Linked DNA regions of Homo sapiens. The protein of the gene in region 2 interacts with the protein of the main gene of each other region in a pairwise test. Each region holds a gene or a part of one and is shown on either strand. Other genes may lie near its edges.

Region 1 (7,026 bases), on a different chromosome or scaffold from region 2:
ATTTTTTTACCCTCTCCATTCTCTCCAAATCTGTTTCATTGGTGGGATTCTCTGGGCTTTGGGTTCATTGTAGCAAAAAAAAAAAAAAAAAAAAGAAAAAGAAAAAAAAAAGTCGTGTAAAGTTGAACTACAACACGAAAAACAATCAATGTTTTTCTTGGTGCTAGGTGGAAGGGATCAAGTTTCTCTTTTCCCCAAGCCATATGTTGAAGAAGTGCAGAGGAAGTAAGGGCAGGAATAGATGGTAGAGGTAAACTGCTAGAACCTTTACAACAACTATTTAACTGCTAAAAATTATAAAAAAGAAATGAAAATCTCTGGAAGTTGTCTTAAGGGCATGCAGAAAATTAATAATTATTTATTCAAGAAAATCTAAATCTCAGTAAGAAGTGAGCGTCTATGGCATTTGAGCCAAGATCTGCTCCATTAACCTCTGTTCTTCCCAAGCTCAGTATGATGAGAGCTCAACTCTGAGTGGATGTAGCCAAAAGACTGGGCTCCCTCTCCTCCCAGCTTCCAGTTAAAGATCATAGTTCACCCCTAGAGCAAAAGGCTGTTGGAATCTCTTATTGTCCCAGCTTCAGGTTGCAGAAATTCTATTCATTGTAGACAGGACCAAGAGGACTATGGTTTCCTTCCTCTACCCAGCCTCCTCTCATAGGGTATAATCTCTAGCCCAGGAGCAGCAAGGTCCTGAATATCCCTGCCCTGGATCACTCATAGTGTATAGGATGTATTCCAGGAGGCATAAGCAAAAAAGACTAGGGACTACGATCCGTATTCAGTGCTCCACTTGTGGAGCAAGAGTATTGCTCCAGGAGAAGTAGGTCACTGTCTCTTCTGCCAGCTCTGGTGCAGTGGTGTAAAGGTACTACTCATAGGAGAGGCAGGCCATAAGAATAGAGGGCTATGTATCTTTCCCTTAGAAGACTGATGATACATAAGCTGGAATTTTATTTGTAAGACAGCATAGGGTATTTCAAGCATAGGGACACTGTTGAAAACAATGAAGATTCTTCTGGTGGACAATTAAGAGTAGGCTTGTTGCTTCATGATAGCAACAAGATAGTGGCAGACCAGCTAGAAGTTAAGCAAAGACAGGCAGAAAAAGAGGTAAAAAATGCCCTCTTGGATTTGGCACTAGCCACAAAATTTGGCCTCAAATATTACCCCTATAAAGAAGCCTGTTATAGATTGAATGTTTATGTCCCCCACAATTATATGTTGAAGCACAAATGCCAGTGTGGCTGTATTTGGAGATAGGGCCTCTAAGGAAGTAATTAAGGTTAATTGGGGTTATAAGAGTGGGGTCCTGATCTGACAGAATTAATGTTCTTATAAGAAGAGACTCCAGATAGCTCACTCTCTCTCTCTTTTTGGGTGCACACACTAAGGAAAGACCACGCGAGGAAGTAACGAAAAGGCAAGCATCTATTAGCCAGAAAGAGAACCCTCACCAGTGAATTTGCTAGCAGCTTGATTATGGACTTCCATCCTCTGGAGCTGTGAGAAAATACATTTTTGTTGTTTAAGCCACACAGTCTGTGGTATGTTGTTATAGTAGCTGAAGCAGACAAATTTAATTGGATCAGATTGTTGGTCAATTCATACCTCAGGGTATTATTGAAAACCATAGAGCAACAATTCAGCAAACAATTAAGAAGGCCAAAATCTGGGTGTGATACCAACACAGGCAGAACAATCACTTAACAGTGAGATAGTGGAAAGAAACAGTCAAAGTGAACACTACTAAAATGATTATTATCCCTTGGAAATGGGAGAGGATAAGAAAGACTGCATCTACCCAATGATGCACCTTCTGAGGAATGGCAACAGAGGCTGCGCATGCAGGGAAAGTCAGACAACATCTGGTAAAAAAAAAAAAAAAAAAAGTAGAAACAGTCCAGGTGTTGTATTTAGAATTTGAATATTTCAAAACAGCTATTATAACTAGGTTAAAAGAATTAAAGAAAATCAAAGAACAAAGAATTAAAGATAGATATGATTTAAAATGTCTCATAAAATTGAGAATATCAATGAAGAGTTAGAAATTATTTTTTAAAAAAGAACCAGATGAAAATTCTGAAGTTGAAAAGTACAATAAATGAAATTAAAAATTCACTAGAGGGGTTCAACAGTAGAGCTGTACTCATAGAAGCTGGCAGAAGAAAGAATCACTGAACTTGAAGATAGATTGGAAGATATTATGCAACATGAAAAACAGAGAAAATAGAATGAAGTAAAAAAATCAACAGAGCCTCAGAGAAATGTGGTACATTGTTAAATGCATTAACATATTCATAATAAGAGGGCCAGAAGGAGAGAGAAAAAGGAGCAGAAAAACAGTCAAAGAAATAGTGGCCCCAAACTTCTGAAGTTTGTTGAATATTAATCTACACATTCATGATGGTCAACAAACTCTAAGAAGAATCAAGCAAATAGATTTACATGCTTGCACATTACAGTAAAACTATTAAAAGCAAAACACAAATAAAAAACCTTGAAAGCAGCAAGAGAAAAAAGAAAAGATTCATTATGTATGAGAGCATCCTGATCAGATTAACAGCCAACTTCTACCAGAAGCAAAGGAGGATGGCAGTGAGATGACATTTAAAGCTGTAAAAGAAAAAGAAATTCCTATCAACCAATAATCTTACATCTACCTAAACTATATTCCTAAAATAAAGATGAAATAAAGACAAACAAAATCTAAGATAATTTGTTGCTGGATTCACTTTACAAAAATCAGTAAAGAAAGCAATAGTAAAGGAAGAAATATTAAAGAAAACAAATGACACCAGATATTAAGTTGAATCATTCCTAAAAAATAATAGCACCAATAAAGGTAATAATGTGGGTAATTATAAAAGACAAATGATTTGTTCTCCTTTTTCCTCTTAACAGATTTAATAGTAAACTGCATGAAATAAAATGTATATAATCTTAGATGAAATGGATAAATTCATAGAAAGACACCGACTACCATATGAACTTAAGAAGAAATAGAAAATCTGATAAGTAAAGATATTGAATTATTAATAAATTTCATAAAACCTTACACAAAGAAAGCCCAAGTCCAGATGTCCTCACTGGTGATTTCTACCAAAATTTAAAATAGAATTAATATTAACTCATCACAAATTCTTCCCCAAAATAGAAGAGGTGTAAATACACTTCCCAACTCATTTTATGAGGTCAATATTCTGCTGATAGCAAAAAAGGAGGAAATATCACAGGAAAATAAAACTACAGAACAATATCCCTTATGAATACAGATGCAGTAATCCTTGAAAAGACTAATGAACTGAATCCAGCAACATATAAAATTACGAACAATGATAAAATGGGATTTATCCCAGTAATGCAAGCTTAATTTAACATCTGAAATACAAAGTGATACAACATATTAATAGGATACAGAACAAAGCTCACATGATTATCTCACTAGATGCAGAAAACGAATGGACAAAATTCAACACCCTTTAATTATATAAACACCTGTGAAACTAGAAATAGAACGAAACTTCTTCAAAAGCATCCATGAAAAACTTGCAGCTCATATCATAATTTTTTTCAATAGGTTTTTTGGGAACAGGTGGTGTTTGGTTACATGGATAAGCTCTTTAGTGGTGATTTCTGAGATTTTGAAGCACCCATCACCTGAGCAGTGTACACTGTACCAATGTGCAGTCTTTTATCATAATTATGGTGAAAGCCTGAAAACTTTCCCCTAAAATCAGGTACAAGATAAGGATGTCCACTTCAATGAGTTCTACTCAACGTGGTACTGTGTGTTCTAGCCAGAGCAATTGGGAAGACAACAAAATAAAAGACATTCAGACTGGAAATAATTTAATAATCTGTGCATTCATCTTGTTCCAGTTACACTTTGAAGTGGTTTATATGAATTAGCTAAAAATCTCTCAAGCAGCCTATGAGAGTGATGCTATCATTATTCCTATTTTCAGATGGGGAAATTGAGGCACAGAGAGGTTAAGTAATTTTCTTACAGTCATATGACTAGTGAGTGGTAAGGGTGGGAGTTCAACTGAGGTGGTGGGTTGCCAGAGCCCAAGCTCTCAGCCTCTATACTGCACTGCCTGCCACTCAGCCCCATCTTGGGAATTGGCATGCCCTTCTCCAGGTTACTCTAACCAGAAACCAACAAGTCATCTTTGAGTTGCACCTCTCTATTATTCCCCCTTAACTACTGTTATTTATTAGCAAGTCCTATTGACTCCACCTCCCAAAAGTCCCTCAAATATGACTACTTCTTTCTATTTTTATTGTCACCACGTGGGTCAAAGCCACCAATGTGTTGGCTGTAGTCACCTCCTAAGGGTTTCTATGTTTTGATCTTTTACACTCTAGTCTTCCAGGCAGCACCCAAAGTGATCATTTTAGAAATGTGAACCATGTAATGTTACTTCCCAGCTCAAAACTTTCCAAATTTTTCCTTTTAGACCTTGAATTAAATTAAACTCTTTATAATGGCCTGAAGTGTTCTGCAAAATCTGATCCCTTTTTTGACCTCTTTATATTTCACTCTTTCTTTACGCCACAGGGGACACCTATGTAGTTTTCTTTCTGTTCAAGACAAGCACTTGAACAAGAAAATCCTTCTTGTCTTTGGGCATTTGCTCCAGCAATGCCCTCTACTTGGGATAGCCTTCACTCACATAGGTTTTCTCCTGGTAATTCTATAACTTGCTGCTGAGATATCACCTCCACAGCGGTGCCTTTCCTTCCCACACAATTTAAGGTAGTTCATCTTCCCTTGCCTTCTCACCATTCATCATACTATATAGCCTCTGTTACTATTGATTCATTTACTCTTTGTCTCCCTCTACTAAAATACAAGATCTTTAAAGAAGGAACTTTGTTTTTCTCATACAACATGGTATCATTAACACTTCTGATGGTGCAGGCCCTTTTTAGGTATGCAGTAAATATTTAATGATGAATGAATGAAATGTTAGACATTCATGGTGAGGCTGAAGCTTTTATCTCCCCTTCTAACAGGAATAGTGATTTGAGGTTCTTGGGAAAATTGATATGAAAGTACAAAAGCAAAGTGATTTTTATGTGCTCAACATTTGAAATAAGAGGATAAAAAAATACAAATTTTACCAACATTATTTTGGAGATAGAAGCAAAGTTCTACCACTCAACAAAAAAACATTAAAAAATAAAAGCTTCTCCAAGATTGCAAAAATAAAGTCCCATTTTCTAAATCCCATTTTTGGAGATGAAATCAAAGTTTTAGAGTACTGGCATCAAATTTTCTAATATTTCTGTACTTTTTCATCTCTTTTTCTCCGTCTTTTTTCTCTTTGATGCTACAGTAAATTTCTTTGGCCTATTATTCCTAATTTTTAAAGCTTTGGCCATATTTGAATGCATGGGAATCTTCCAGGATTTATTCATTAACAGCAGATTCACAATTCAGTGTTTGTTGCATCATAGCATTTGCTTTTTATAACTTTCTTCTTAAAATAATACTTAAAATTCACATCATTGTTCTGATCAAGAGCCTGTTCTGCATCTAGAGATACTTAGATGACTTGACTTTAATGAGATGATAAGGAATATATCTTAACTTTGGTTTTTAACTTCTTTGAGGTCACAGGCTCTTTTGGGAGCCAAGTGAAGACTGTGTACTCTTGCCTCTCCCATAAAACACACACACACACACACACACACACACACACTCACACATGAACACATCGTATACAATTCCAATGGACCTTATGAAGCCCACTTTTGGATTTCTGGCTTAGTTCTTCAAGGAGCAGTCTCAGCTCAGAGTATATCCATATTTGTTAACCTTAGAACCCAAGACAGGGAAGCAGTACACAAAAGTAAAAATTGCCCACATTTTCACACTTTCCTCCTTGTGGCATTGCTCAGGGGCTTTTCTCCAGGTTTGATTCTTGCTTTGGACTGGCTTCTGAGCTGCTCCAGGATAAATTATCTCTCCTGGTCACTGACTACTTGGCTTTCCCTGGTCATAAGATTCATGAGAAACATAAAATAAAGCAATGCTTCATATGACCACAGCATACCAGGCAGTTCCAGAACAATTGGTGAGCCTGCTTTGCTCATGCTGTCTTCTCAGCCCAAGGAAACAGTAAATCTCAACAATGTGTTCAAGTTAGTACTCAGGTTCCTCTGAGATGATGGCCACTGGGGACCCAAACTACCAAATTCTGTGGTTATTATTAGGATATTATACATAACAAAAGCAAAAGTCTACTCATTTAAGATATAAATACTTTATTTGTTACTTTCCAAATTGTTCTTATTCCAACTAAGAAGATTGTTTGGAACTACTCAAAATCCTGAGTGCTATTCACATAACTGATAAAAAACCAATGTTGTAAATTGGCTTTAATGTATATTCCAAAGCCAGTTTGGCAATATATGTCAAAATCCTTAGAAATGTAGGTACCTTTTGACCAAGTAATTTCCCCTTTAAGATTCCACTTTAAGGAGATAATATATTGAGCAAAGATTAATTATAAGGATGTGAATCATAGTAGTGCCTATATGAGCAAATAATTGGAAAAAAATGAGTTGTCCAATAATTTAAAAATATTAGTTAATTATGCTATGATATAGCTATATTAAATATATACTGCCTTCCATATTTTAAACATAATGATATAGAAAATTTTATAAATGGAGAAAATATTAACAATATTGATAGCTGAGAATCAGGTTCAGAATCTGTATCTTTGGTAGGATCCTCTTGTGATGCAATCATCTTATTCACATCCATTCTAGCGCTTCCCCACTGAGGAGCAGCCCTGTGGTTTAGGTAGAATTTTCCCTATTCTCAGCTCTATGAGTCAGCATGGCTGGGTTTTGCCAGTCTTCTGAGTATAATAATGCCTAAGTCAATCAGCTCATCCATATTCCCCTGGCTATAGTGGTTGTTTCTCATTTAGCTAAATCCACATGCACATCAAGACTGTTGTGTAGCAGTTTGAGAGGGGATAATCTCTCTATGTATCTGTTAAAAAA
Region 2 (7,026 bases):
AAGAAGATGGAGATGGTATGGCCATCTCAGTGATTTTTCCTGTGGAGCAAAGAAGTGGGTGGTAGTTGAAGGATGCAGTGGGGTCGGGGAACATGTCATTTTCCCAAGGAAAATACTGGATGTTTCTGTGCATTGGGAATGGTCCAGGAAAGGGGAAAATTATGGTGCAGGCAAGAGGGAATTGTTGCTAGGGGGCTATTGAGGAGTGACTTGGAAAGCAGGTTTCTCTAGGGAGGAGGAAGGGGCAGGAAGTGGCAGTGAGGAGGGCAGACACCTAGCTCACTGCCTGTCCAAGTGGTACAGGATTCACAGGGGAGAGCCCTGGTCCTGGAGACTAAATTTCAAACCTAGCCGGAAGGTGAGAGGATCATCAGAGAAGAGGGTGAGGACATAGGGAGGTTTGCTGTTGGTTTTTGGAGATGGGTAGGAGATGAGATGGGATTAAAGGCGCACAGACCTGAATGGGGTGAGGGATGACCTGAGAGTGTTGCACGTCTTGTGCAGCAAGACGTAACCAGGATGGCGGGCACATTGGAATTGGGTCTTGACAGGGATGGTTCTAGGCCAGTTGAGGAGTTGGGCGAGGCAGTGAAGGTCATAGGGGAGCATCCTGACATCCAGGCTGCATCATCCTCCTATGCAGGCGCTTTGAGCCCCGGGGAGAGGCACGGTAGCCAGAGTTCTGGGACCTCTCCTTCGAGATGCCTGGGAAGAAGTCAAGGAGGGAGAGATATTGAGCCAGATCTTAAGAGAGTTGATCATATTCCTCCCCTGATCACATCCTTCATTGACTTCCTGCAGCACTTGAGTAAAATCCAGATCCCTCCCTTGGCCTCTCAGCCCTGCACTGCTTGTCGGCCCGCCTCCCCACCCTCTCCCCAGTGCTTGCCTTGCCCTGCCCTCTTTCTCCTCCTCAGTTGGAGCCATTTTCTTCTGCCTGGGAGACCTGGCAGTTGCATTTCTTTTTTCAGGAATGCCCCTTCCTGGCTCTTTTCAGAGTTGGATTGGTCACTTCCTGATGTCTTCACTTGGTCACCTCTTTAGAGAGGCTCTTCCTGACCCAGTTACTCTGCCCCTATTTATGTCCTTAGTAGAACCTGCCTCATTAGTTTATTGCCCATTTTCCCCCATCTGAATGTAAGTACGCTAGGTGCTGTCTTATTCCTTTCTGTGTATGTAGAACCTACCAAGTACCTGGTGTCTAATAGCTGTTCATAACTACTTGTTGAACAAACAGATGAGTGAGTTGTTTGGATTTGGGTAACTACCAAGGAGAGCTGAGGGCATTGGCATAAGGTAATTGTTGGGAGTTAGATGACAAGAACATAATGCCGGAACATTCTACAGAGTTCTCTTGTGGGAGTCCTACTAACCCCTGCTGACAATTTGCGAGATGTCTTAGTCCATTCAGCCTGCTGTAATAAAATACCTTAGACTTTGTGATTTATAAACAACAGAAATTTATTTCTTACGGGTTTTGAGGCCGGAAGTCAGAGATCAAGGTGCACTCATGGGTTCTTGGTGAGGCCTCCCCCTTCCTGGTGTCACACTGTTGCCTCTGGTTATATCTTGACATGGCAGAGAGCAGAGAGCTTTAGTCTCTTTCTCGTCTTATTAGGGCGTGGATCCCATTCATGAGGACTCCATCCCCATGACCTGATCATCTCCTGAAGGGCCATCTTCCAGTACCATCACCATGGGGTCGAGGATTTCAGCAAACACTCAGACCATAGCACACAGGTTGAGACAAGTCATTTGCTTGTTGACTGAGTTATTTCATATTTACAAATGGCATTAATTTATCATGTTTCACTTCAAAGATCACCGCGTGGAAGATGGTAATAAGAGAAAAATGCCTAATAAACAATTTAAGCTCTCTCTGCCTTTCCCACTTAGAAGATTGTAAGTATACCTACCTTATCTATTTCCCTCACTGTTCCCATGGTAGGTGTGGGTGAGGTGGTTAGGGGGAGTGTAGAGAAACACAAGGAGGAAGCTGTCTTTCCAGGTAGAAGGAGCTAAGGCGGCAGAGGAGACCCCAAGCAGGAGCAGCTGGCGAGGCGGGAGGACAGTCAGGAGAGCCGGTGGGACATGGGAGTTGAAGAGAACATTGTAAGCAGGAGGGAGTGCCAAAGTGTCCTGTGCTGTTGAGTTGGAAAGGATACTGATGCTTCAAAAATGTTCCTTGGAATTAAGGACACGGAAGTGACTTGTGTCTGCAGGGTTTCAGCCAGGGGAGGGCTGAAGCTAGAATGGTCAAGGTGAGCTTCCCAACCACTGTGCCAGGCGTGTGCCAGCTGGGGGTCCCGTCTACTCCTACAGCCTCAGATAAGGATTCCTGGGAAATAAGGCACTGGGCTAGGAAGGGAACTACATGAAAAAGTGTGGTGGGCCGAAGGGCCTGGGACCTTGACTGCACCTCCCCAGGGGCTACACTGCCTGGGCTGTGCTCCAAGTCTGGTGTGCAGAGGGAGCTTTCCCCGGGAGGCCTGCCTGCTAGAGCCTGTGTAATTGCCTGTGGCCAGCCCCAAAATCACTCACAGTGCTGTGGTCTGAATGTCTGTGTCCCCCCCAGAATTCCTATGTTGAAACTTAATCCCCAATGTGATGGTATGAGGAGGAGGTGCCTTTGGGATGTGATTAGGAATGGGTTTCATGCCCTATTAAAAAAGAGGCCCCAGGCCACATGCAGTGGCTCATGCCTATAATCCCAGCACTTTGGAAGCCTGAGGCAGGAGGATTGCTTGGGCCCAGGAGTTCAAGACCAGTCTGGGCAACATGGCGAGACCCCGCTTCTACAAAAAATTAAAAAATTAGTTGAGCGTGATGGTGTGTGCCTGTGGTCCCAGCTACATGGGAGGCTGCGGTGGGAGGATTGCTTGAGCCTGGGAAGTTGAGGAAAAGAAGGATCCATTGCCCTTTCCATCGTGTGAGGACTCAGAAGGTGTCATCTGTGAACCAGAGATGCCTCACCAGACGCCGAATCTGCTGGCGCCTTGATCATGGACTTCCAGTCTCTAGAACTGAGAGAAATAAGTGTCTGTTGTTTATAAGCTACCCAGTCTACAGTGTTTTTTTAAGAGAATTAAATAGTTTATTAGCTACATACAATTATGGATGATACACAAGCTTCATTCCCATCTATAATGTTATCTGGTACCATTATTCAGTTTAGATATATTGCATGGGATGTGCCAACAATCATTTTTATAACTAATAATTCTGTGACTTTGCTTGGGTGATCCCCTTTGGTGGTGAACTTCAGGTCACAACAGTAACTGTCAGTTCAGCTACACCGAGCTCACTGAAGACAGTGGCTTCTCCACCCGAGCAGAGTGTAAATAAGTTCCAAGTAGAACCTGGCATCACCCTGAAGGAATTCTGACTTCACACTCTTGGGGGAGTTTACCAAGATGGCTTCCGAGGAGACTAACTTTACACAGCACGTTTTTTAAAAGGACACATTTATTCAGTCTCATGATCAGACTATTACATTTAGCAATCAACAGCATGAGTGCAAAAGAAAAAAATTACATTAAAACCCTTTGTTGGAATGCTTGGTACTTTCCACAGAACAGAAACGAAAATAACCTGTTAATAAAATTAGTCACAAATACAGTCCTGGAGTTTTTTGCTCATACACGTGAGTATTGTCTAAAACATATCTTCTTTGTAGCAGCTGGGCTCTGCCACCACTGTGCTTGGCTGACTGAGTTCACAAATCTCTTGTAACCTGTAGCTTCCCTATCGCTTCTCTGGCTCTCCTTTCCGGCTAAACTTTGTTTCCTGGCAGTGATTAAAATCTTCTGCCAGTGCCATGGCTACTGCTGCTACTAGAACCACCATAGCCACCTTGGTTTTGTGAACCCATTTATGCCTGGTATTCCATTATTGGAACGCTAAGCATGTGGGAGTTATTTATGTTCTCCTGTTCAAGGTCATCGCCAAGGTCTGATTTTTCAAATTCAAAAAGTGCAACCTCAGGCATAAATGGGTTAAAATCTTCTGCCAGTGCCATGGCTACTGTTGCTACTGGAACCACCGTAGCCACCTTGGTTTTGTAAAGTAAAGTAAAATTTGGCAAAGTATTGTTCTCCACCACCATAAGGGCCAGAGCTTCTGCCTCCAAAGTTTCCTCCCTTTATGGGTCCAAAATTTGAAGGCTGATTGTTGTAATTGCCAAAATCATTGGAGCTTCTGCCACCTCCAGAATTGATTCCATCATTACCAAATCCATTACAGCCATCCCTGCTGCCACTGTATCCACCGCCACCGCTGTGGACAGCTGCCACCAAAGCCATCATGACCACTGAAATTTCCTCCATGACCGAAGTTGTCATTCCCACCAAAACCACCTCCACAACCACCACCAAAGTTTCCAGAAGCACTTCGACCTCTTTGGCTGGATAAAGCACTAGCCATCTCTTGCTTTCACAGGACTTCCCTAACTTCACAGTTTTGGCCATTCACAGTATGGTATTTCTGAGTGACAGTCTTGTCCACAGCGTCGTGGTTGTCAGAGGCACGAAGGCATAGCCCCTTTTCTTGGCACTACCTCTGTCAGTCATGATTTCAGTCACTTCAGTTTTTCCATACTGTTCAAGATCTCTTAGGCGATGTTCTTCAATGTCTTCTTTAATGCCGCCAGCAAATATCTTTTTCACAGTTGGGCACCTCGTCTTTGAGAATCTTCTCGAGACAGCCCTTTGGTTCCACAACTCTTCATCCACCTTGTGTGGCTTTGCATTCATGGCGCATCCACCTCCTTCACAGCGGCATACAGGACAAACCCAAAGCCCCAGAGTGCTTGGTGCTTGGATCTCATGACTACACAGTCCACGAGCGTTCCCCATCGCTCAGATTGGCTTCTCAGGTTCTCATCAGTTGTTTCAAAGCTCAGCCCTCCAGTGCCGAGATTCCACAGTCGGCCCTCCAGTGAGGAGCTTCCACAGCTGTTTAGGCTCTTTGGGAGACTCTGACTTACACTGGAGTGCAGTGGTGTGATCTCGGCTCACTGCAACCTCTGACTCCCGGGCTCAGGTGATCCTCCCACCTCGGCCTCCCAAGTAGCTGGCACTACATGTGTGTGCCCCCATACCTGGCTAATATTTGTATTTTTTGTAGAGATGGAGGACTCGCCATGTTGCCCAGGCAGGTCTTGAACTGGGTTCAAGCAATCCGCCTGCCTCAGCTTCCCAAAGTGCCAGGATTACAGGCGTGAGCCACAGTGCCTGGCCTATGGTATTTTTGGTGTAGCAGCCAGCACATAGATTTTTAACCAGGAGCTGGATCCCTTACCCAGCACTTAGAACAGGCACATAGCAGCACTCAGTATTTATTGAGCCAGTTAGTGGATGGATGGATGGATGGATGAATGGATGTATGAGTGTACAGAGGCTGGAAGGTGAAGTGAAGTAAGCTTTCTGTTTAAGATGGAAGGGACTTCATGTTTAAAAGTTGATGGATGCATTTTCAGAGAGTGAGAACATGTTCACTAGAGGAAAAAGCCCAATAGCATCAATTCCCTGAGCAGGTAAGGGGTTGGCTGTAAAGCAGGGTGGACAGGTGGATCTCAGCTCTGTGGGAACCAGGAAAGGACAAGAGCATGGGTGTTCTTAGTTGGTGTGTTTGGTGGTTTGGTGGTTTGGTGGCAGCAGGAAGGTAAGGGAGTTCACACTGATGGCTTTGGGTTTCTGTGTGTGAAGTAGGGGAAGTTGTCTGCTAAGAATGGAAGTGTGGGGCAGGAAGTGGAGGTTTGAAGTGGTTTAGAGTAAAATGGACGTTGAGATAAAGCAAGAAGCCTTAGATTGCCAGGCAGCAATGTGCAGGCCATGGGGGGCTGATGAGGACTGGCTCAGGACCCCCCTGCCCTGTGCCTGACTCCACCCAGCAGTGCTCAGCTCAGCACCTCCTGGAGCAGGAGGAGGGAAAGCTGCACTCCGGTGGGATTTTACCAGGTGGAGGCAGCGGAAAGGGAATTTGAATGTCCTGTTGAAGCCGCTGAAAAAACGGAGAAGGGCCGGATGAGGAGTTCAGGAGGCCAAGGAGTCAGCACGGTGGGGCCGAGGAACCAGCCTGCTGCCAGAAGAAACGGGTCGGAGAGCGGCAGCCGGAATTTTGGCGATGGTGTAATTTCGAGCAGGAAGACTGCCCTGGGCTGGGTCACTGAGTGGAGTGGAGGGGAAAGGCCAGTGGAGATCAGGGGATGCTGCACAGAAAGGCCAGGCTGCCCACGCACACGTGGAACCCGTGCCGCATGCTGCAAGGATCTGGATAGGCCCCGCGATCAAGAGTCCTGAATGAGAAGGAGAAAGTGTGGACCCCAGCAGCGGGTGTGGGGAGCGGGCGGTTCTGCCTGGAATGGGCCTGAGGGTCTGCGGATGTCTGTTTCTTTTTCTCACTTGTCTGCACAACTTTGACTTTTTATACCCACTGCTATTTTGAAAAAGGAGTGGGAGGAATACTGGATTCAGTGTCATCATTAGTGGAAAGCCACAAGTGTTTCCTATGTTTAGATGGCAGAAGCCCAGGGGCAAGGCTCAGGTCCTTCCAGCTGTGCTGTCTCCTGGCGATCCGTGGATTAGAGCTGTTCCTCAGCTTCTCCGTCACTTAAAGGGGTGGGTTTCGGCTGTGCTGTGGGAGCCACTCATTCAGCCTTCATGTTGTTGCTGCTAGGACTACATTTTCCTCTATTATGTTTCTCACCTGCTTTTGTAAAAAATTAATGAATGAAGTTCTAGTTGCAAGCAGTGCTGTGCTTACTGTGGCGGGAATAGGGGAGCAGCCCCTCCTCAAGGGCCTGTATTCTCTTGGCTTCCTCTTCCTCTGGTAGCAGATAAGTAAAATGATGGATGGTGGTTTTGGGAGAGGAAGAGGTGGCAATTTTATTTCTTTTCTAAGACTAAGAGATTAACAAAGTTGCTGGTTTTGGTGGGATTGCTCCTGATTGGTGGTAAAAGAAAGCAGCACATAAATGCTTATGATAAGCAGGCTGGGTGCAGTGGCTCGTGGCTCATGCCTGTAATC
Region 3 (7,026 bases), on a different chromosome or scaffold from region 2:
CAAAGGTGTGAACTCAAGAGGATCCCAGAGCAGGCTCTGCAGAAGGCCTCTAGAGGGGATGGGGAGGGGGGTCTGACCCGGGCCTGCCTGAAGGGAGCCCTTGAGGATGCTGGGCTCACACAGAAGGGCGTTCAAGGTGGAAGGAACCACATGCGCAAGAGCCTTAGAGTGGGAGCCAGGGGCAGTGCCGGGGTCGGGGCTAGGCTTGGCTGGCACGGGGTGTTTTCTGAGGATTCCAGGCAGGACCACTGAGGCCGTTCCCCTGCAGCAGCAGGAAGTGCCTGAGAGTTCTGAGTGTGAGAGGGACTTGGGCTGGGGAGGCAGAGCTGTCCAGGAGGGGCTGCTGCAAGATGGAGAAAAACAGCCTCCCTGGACCCTCAAGGGCGGAGGACAGTGACAGCACAAACCAGTGGCTGGTTTGCAGAGAGGACCAGACCTTCCCCATGCAGATCAGTTCACATTGTCTCTGTACTGAACAGCCCTGAGAAGGGGTGTTCCATCCATTCAGTCCTCTCTGGGGGCTTCTTGGGGTGATGAGAACAGGATGCCCCAAGTAGGGGCTCTACCACAGGCCTAACAGGTACCAGGCTGCGTCACCTCATTCCCCAGAGGAGCCAAGAGCGGAGGCTGCCCAGAGTGTCCAGCACGGTCTCTCCCCTTCAGGAACATGACATCGAGACACCCTACGGCCTTCTGCATGTAGTGATCCGGGGCTCCCCCAAGGGGAACCGCCCAGCCATCCTCACCTACCATGATGTGGGCCTCAACCGTAAGTGCAGCCCAGCCTCAGTCAGCCCTCCTCTGCCTCCCATCAGCCAGAGCGGTGAGGCCCCCCACCCTCCCCACAGGGCCCTGTCAGCCCCACTCACACTCACCTCTGTTGCCTTCGCCCTCCGGGCCTCCATTTCCCCGACGGACCCGAGGCTTACACTTCTGCCTTGCCTGCCCTCTGGGGGCCCGGCCTTCCTTCCAGTCCCCCGGCCCCTCTGCTCAGCCATAGTGGAAGTGTGTCTTTGCAGACAAACTATGCTTCAACACCTTCTTCAACTTCGAGGACATGCAGGAGATCACCAAGCACTTTGTGGTGTGTCACGTGGATGCCCCTGGACAACAGGTGGGGGCGTCGCAGTTTCCTCAGGGGTAGGTACCCTGAGCCCCCTCTGCCTGTCTCCAGCTCTGCACCTGAGGCCACACCTGGGCCCTGACCTCCTGCTCTGCCTGCAGGTACCAGTTCCCCTCCATGGAGCAGCTGGCTGCCATGCTCCCCAGCGTGGTGCAGCATTTCGGGTGAGTCCCCGCACAGCCCCTGCGCTAGGGCCCAGGGGTGCCTACCCCAACTGCAGAGCCACCTGGCTCCAGCTGAGGGCTTCAGGCTATGGGCAGGGCCTGCTCTGGATGACATGTATGGGAAATGGCACCCCTAGCCCTAGAGTGACCAGCCTGCTCTGCACCAGGTTCAAGTATGTGATTGGCATCGGAGTGGGCGCCGGAGCCTATGTGCTGGCCAAGTTTGCAGTGAGTCTCCCCATGCCCCCATTACCCCAAACACCAGGGCAAGCCAGGGATGTCCCAGTGGTGGGGACTGGGGGGAACCCTTCAGCCTTGAGGAAGTGTCCCTGCTCTCGCTTCTCCTCCTCCCACCTCCTCTTTATGTAGAAAACCTCTTTTTTCTTTTTTCCTCCAGGGAAATTAACTTTTTTAAAAAAGAGGTTCCTTTCTCCATATAGTTTTCTCAAGAGACTAGAAACTATAACTTGCTTAAACTATTATCCAAAGCCAGAATTTCTAGTAGCAACAAACTATACAACTAACTGCTCTAGCCACTAAATAAGGATCGTCCTTCACTAATTGCCATGGTATTTCAACATGAATAATTTTTTTAGCAAAAAATTTTATTATGGTTGGGAGGTTTAAAGAAGGCACATTTCAAAAACATCATTGTCGGTGGCTCACACCTGTAATCCCAGCACTTTGGGAGGCCAAGGTGGGCAGATCACGAGGTCAGGAGATCAAGACCATCCTGGCTAACACGGTGAAACCCAGTCTCTACTAAAAATACAAAAAATTAGCCGGGCGTAGTGGCGGGCGCCTGTAGTCCCAGCTACTCGGGAGGCTGAGGCAGGAGAAAGGCGTGAACCCGGGAGGCGGAGCTTGCAGTGAGCTGAGATCGCGCCACTGCACTCCAGCCTGGGCAACAGAGCGAGACTCTGTCTCAAAAAAATAAAAAAATAAAAAAAATCATTGTTGGGTAGGAATTCACAAGCTTTTCATCTCTAAAAACAAGCAAAAAAAAAAAAAACAAAAACCCAAAAGACTAATTTTTCACGATCGAAGACATTTACTACTTCAAAAGAAATGACCAAGAATTTTCAACTCCAGTTGCAATGTCAGCACTTAATCATTTTGTTAACTGGAGGCCATTCCCTGCCACCCTAGACAAGCTTGATGTGGTTATGCTGTTTTTCTTTAAGCACAGTCTAACAGTTGAAAAGAAAATACCTCTTTTGCAATGCCTACGGCAAAACAGACTTTGAAAAGGTTGTTTTTTTCTTAATTTATATCATGAGGGCTTCATTTTCTTTTTTTTTTTTTTTTTTTTTTTTTTGAGATGGAGTCTTGCTCTGTCGTCCAGGCTGGAGTGCAGTGGCATGATCTCGGCCCACTGCAACCTCCACCTCCCTGGTTCAAGCAATTCTCCTGCCTCAGCCTCCTAAGTAGCTGAGACTACAGGTGCATGCCACCACGCCTGGCTAATTTTTGTATTTTTATTAGAGACAGGGCTTCACCATGTTGGCTAGGCTGGTCTCGTATGCCTGACCTCAGGTGATCAGCCCGCCTTGGCCTCCCAAAGTGCTGGGATTACAGGCGTGAGCCACGGCGCCTGGCCAGGGCTTCATTCTCTATAAAAGCAAAAAAACAACATGCTTAAGATTTTAAGATGTTTAATACTCAATTTTGCACTTCAAAAATATATTAAGAGCTGATTCTGTTGAAAGAGCGTGTGTGTGTGTGTGTGTGTGTGTCTGTGTGTGTGTAGGGGTGGAAACAATGATAGAGATTCTAAATAAATCCAAGAACTGTGAAGGGTTCAGTGAGAGGAGGACAGGCAGGGGCATCTGGACATGGGTGTGCATGCACAGACCCGGCTGTAGCCGGGTGGCTGATCAGCAGCACCTTGAAGACTTTACAGAGTGTTTCTGCCATCTGCACCCATCCTGGCCCCGCCCGGCCCTGTTTCCCCTCTTACTGCAGCTCATCTTCCCCGACCTGGTGGAGGGGCTGGTGCTGGTGAACATCGACCCCAATGGCAAAGGCTGGATAGACTGGGCTGCCACCAAGGTGTGTGTGGTGACCGGGGGTGGGGTGGGTATACCTAGGGTGGGGTGAGGGGCGGCACTCACGCTGGCGCCCTGCTCCCTGCAGCTCTCCGGCCTAACTAGCACTTTACCCGACACGGTGCTCTCCCACCTCTTCAGCCAGGTAAGGGGGGGAACTTCTGCAGATCTGGGGTGATCTGGGATTTGCCCCTCCCAGCTGGCTCGGTAGGAGGCAGGCGGGTGTCTTTGGCATCTGACCTGGCTCACTCCAGATGCTAAGCCATCTGAAAGACAGACATCCCCTCCCAAGGCCCCACACCTCCTACCTGCCCCCACCCTGTCTCCCCTGCCTGCTGAGTGGGGCAAGGGCCACTCTGGCAGTGACATCTGCCAGCCCCCTCTAAGCCTGCGTCCCTCTGTCTGCCCCTCTGCATGCCTCCATCCATCTCCCTGGGCCTAGGAGGAGCTGGTGAACAACACAGAGTTGGTGCAGAGCTACCGGCAGCAGATTGGGAACGTGGTGAACCAGGCCAACCTGCAGCTCTTCTGGAACATGTACAACAGGTGCGGGTGGGATCAGCAGCCCTGGGACCCAGCACACCCCAGTGGGGGCCCTTGCACACTGCCCCCTGAGGGAGGCAGGCAGACAACACCCTTGCCCTGGTTTGTAGATGGGCACGATATTGGGCCTCAAAGGAGGTCATTTCCTGCACAAGGTCACACCCTGTGAGGGGCAGAGGGGAACAGGGTTTCAGACTCCGGGCCTTGGGCTCTTCCACTTTTCCTCCTCCCCTGGGGGCTTCCCGCTTGGGAATGTTGGGGGTGTTAGTGACATCCCTGACTCCAGTAACCCAGCCTTGATGTTGACGTCTGCAAAATGAGGAAGAGGTCGGATGAGCCTGTGGTTTTCAAGCTGTGCTCCTTGGAGCCCCCTTTAGGGGCTGCCCTGCCCTGCAGGAAGGTGGCCAGGCCCCCTCACTCACGTGCCCTCCTTCTCATTCTTCTACAAATATTAAGCACCTGCTGTGTGCATGGTGCTAAGAAAACAAAACAATAGAGAATAGAGAGACCCAGGGCCTGCCATCCCATATGGTCCAGGAGACAGGCCAGTAGCAGAAACTCCCACAGCACAGGTGGCGGTGCGCATGGCTCTGAGGGGGATAGAGAGCAAAATTTGAGAGCCCACCTGGTATGTGCTAGGGAGTCCAAAAAGCCGTGACAGGGAGCCTCCAGTTCATTTATGCAGAGCAGGTCCACGCCTCCCTGCTTTACCAATTGGCAGTGTTGGGCTTGGGATGCCCCTCATCCTGTCCTGGGGTGCCCACCTCTGCCTCTGCCCCTCCCCCTGCCCCACAGCCGCAGAGACCTGGACATTAACCGGCCTGGAACGGTGCCCAATGCCAAGACGCTCCGGTGAGTGGCCCCTGGCCCTCTGGCCTGCCCTGGCCTTTGCCCCCATGACCCAGCCAGACAGCCCTTTTCCTCTGTATCTGCAGCTGCCCCGTGATGCTGGTGGTTGGGGATAATGCACCCGCTGAGGACGGGGTGGTAAGTGAGGGGCTGTGGGCTCACTGGGGGTGGGAGGTAGGGGTGAGGGGCTCACTGGCCCCTGCCCAGCAGGGACAATTCTTGATCCAGCCCAGGGGAGCCTCCAGGGCCAGCAGTGGACGGTGGGCTTCTTGTCCACTTTCCCACAGTCTTGCCAAGCCTCACATCTGGCATAGCCCCCATCCTTCTGGCTGGGGAGGCCTGGAAATGGGGAGAGCTGGGGCCAGGGCTGGGCCATCAGAAGGTCCCCTCTTCCCTCCCCAGCAGCACAGCCCCAACTTGGTCCCTACCCACCTCAGGCCCAGGGTGTACGATCTTTTTTCTAAAATGTGATCAAGCCATTATAAATCATTAACGCATACAGCGGCACGGTCTCCCTTTTCCCGTCACCTGCAGCGGTTATGTTTGGGGGCCGTGTGTCACCTCTCCTGCTGGAACTCTGGGAGCAGGTGGCCTGAGGCTGGGATGCCCCATCAGCACAGAGCTGCTGGGAAGCTGCAGGGTCCAGAAGTGCCCAGAGCAGCCCCGTGCGCCCTGAAAATACCAGGCTTTCCCATGCCCACTGGGAGGTCCTGGAAGAGCAGGGTGGTGGGCTGTGCCAGCCCCCTCCACCCAGTCTCTCTCAGACCCTCGGCACCCCTCACCTCACTGCCGAGGGCACTGGGGCTTTCCCAGGCCAGTCCCACCACGGCAGCCCAGCCCTCGCCTGACTCCCACTCCTAGCAGTTGTGAGTGGGCTCCAAGGGTCCCAGGCCCTTCAGTGGGGCTGTTAAACTGGTCTCCAAGAACATGGGGAGCCCTGGGAGAAGAAAGCCTGGGAGGAGCAGCCTGTCACAGCTGCTGGGCCTCCCTCTGCCTCCCTGCACCCCCTCTCCTCCCCGAGCTTGGGGCATCAAACCTGCCTTGGCAATGGGGGTGGGGAGGGGCAGGGGCTGTTGCTGAAGCTGGCTCCTTGTCCTCAGGTGGAGTGCAACTCCAAACTGGACCCGACCACTACGACCTTCCTGAAGGTGAGGCTTTCTTCCCCAGCCCTGGGCCAGCTTCCCTAGCATGGGCCCAACCTCAGGGAGGTGTTTTCCTGGGGTCCCAGCCAGGGTGGGAGCTTGTCCTGGAGTGAGGGCCCTGCTCAGGTCACCCCACTCTCTCCCTTGCAGATGGCAGACTCTGGAGGGCTGCCCCAGGTCACACAGGTGAGACTTTTGGCCCTCCTGCCCTTACATCTATGGGGAGGGGGAAGCCTCTACCCTACCTGCTAATCCTAGGCAGCCAATGAAAGCATGTGCTTGTCCTGCCCTCCGCAGCCAGGGAAGCTGACTGAAGCCTTCAAATACTTCCTGCAAGGCATGGGCTACAGTGAGTACATTTCCACCCCACCCCACACCACCTAGAGACCGGTGGGCAGGCAGTGCTGGGGTTGGGGCTCCTGTTTGCAGGGCTGGCACGTGGTGTCAGGTGGTAGTAGGGAGCCCATAAGCATAGGAGTTTTGTGTGACCTGGGCCCCGGATGCTGGGCCCCACAGATGCCACCTGAGTTGCAAGTTGGCCATCCCAGGCTGTGCCCAACTCCCCTTTGCCCTTAGGGAGGACTTGGCGCACTGTTCTGATGGCAGTGCTGGGCCTACTGGGGGAAGGGACTCTTCCTTCCGTGCTGGGGGTCCAGGGCCAGGGGCCGTGTCCTGCCAGGGAAGCCTGTCTGGGGGTGAGGCACACTCCCCTCACCCGCCCCAGGGCTTGGGGTCAGAGCTGGGTCTATGGCACCTGAGAAGGCCTTTTGAAACAACTCATGGCTGCACCCAGGGGCATCATAGGAGTGGGCTTGGAGTTTGGGGCCAGGGAAGGCAACTGGGGCCGCCTGGCATTCAGAGAGCTGAAAGCAGCTGAACCTGGCTTGGCAGATCTGAAAATCTGGGTCTGGGGTGGAACCAGGTACACACACACAGACACACACACACACACACACAACACACCCCTTGTGTGTCTCCTTGACTTCCCCCTTCCCTCCAAGACATACCTGTTCCTCCAGGTCCCCACTGCCAGGAGGCAAACTTCCTCTTCTCAGTTTGTTTTTTGTTCCCCTCCAGACTTCAGCCTCTGGAGCTATCTCCAGGGCAAACAGGAGGGCTGCCTGTGGGAAGGCTGGGGAGGACACCCAGGAATAGAA

Evidence for each region. The genes of interacting proteins can lie anywhere in the genome.
Region 1: the proteins of SFT2D1 (region 2) and SLC30A8 interact in binary tests that used the Homo sapiens proteins (3 or more experiments, as listed by UniProt).
Region 3: the proteins of SFT2D1 (region 2) and NDRG4 interact in binary tests that used the Homo sapiens proteins (3 or more experiments, as listed by UniProt).

What each region holds. Positions count from the first base shown.
Region 1 is NC_000008.11:117,137,987-117,145,012, forward strand, and holds part of SLC30A8 (proton-coupled zinc antiporter SLC30A8), read left to right. Parts: intron 1-7,026. UniProt on the Homo sapiens protein: Proton-coupled zinc ion antiporter mediating the entry of zinc into the lumen of pancreatic beta cell secretory granules, thereby regulating insulin secretion.
Region 2 is NC_000006.12:166,332,524-166,339,549, reverse strand, and holds part of SFT2D1 (vesicle transport protein SFT2A), read left to right. Parts: intron 1-7,026. UniProt on the Homo sapiens protein: May be involved in fusion of retrograde transport vesicles derived from an endocytic compartment with the Golgi complex.
Region 3 is NC_000016.10:58,503,135-58,510,160, forward strand, and holds part of NDRG4 (protein NDRG4), read left to right. Parts: intron 1-571; exon of another isoform or gene 572-609; coding exon of another isoform or gene 610-663; coding exon 664-769; intron 770-1,019; coding exon 1,020-1,140; intron 1,141-1,224; coding exon 1,225-1,287; intron 1,288-1,454; coding exon 1,455-1,515; intron 1,516-3,252; coding exon 3,253-3,339; intron 3,340-3,423; coding exon 3,424-3,480; intron 3,481-3,777; coding exon 3,778-3,881; intron 3,882-4,673; coding exon 4,674-4,730; intron 4,731-4,813; coding exon 4,814-4,865; intron 4,866-5,827; coding exon 5,828-5,875; intron 5,876-6,019; coding exon 6,020-6,055; intron 6,056-6,166; coding exon 6,167-6,218; intron 6,219-7,026. UniProt on the Homo sapiens protein: Contributes to the maintenance of intracerebral BDNF levels within the normal range, which is necessary for the preservation of spatial learning and the resistance to neuronal cell death caused by ischemic stress.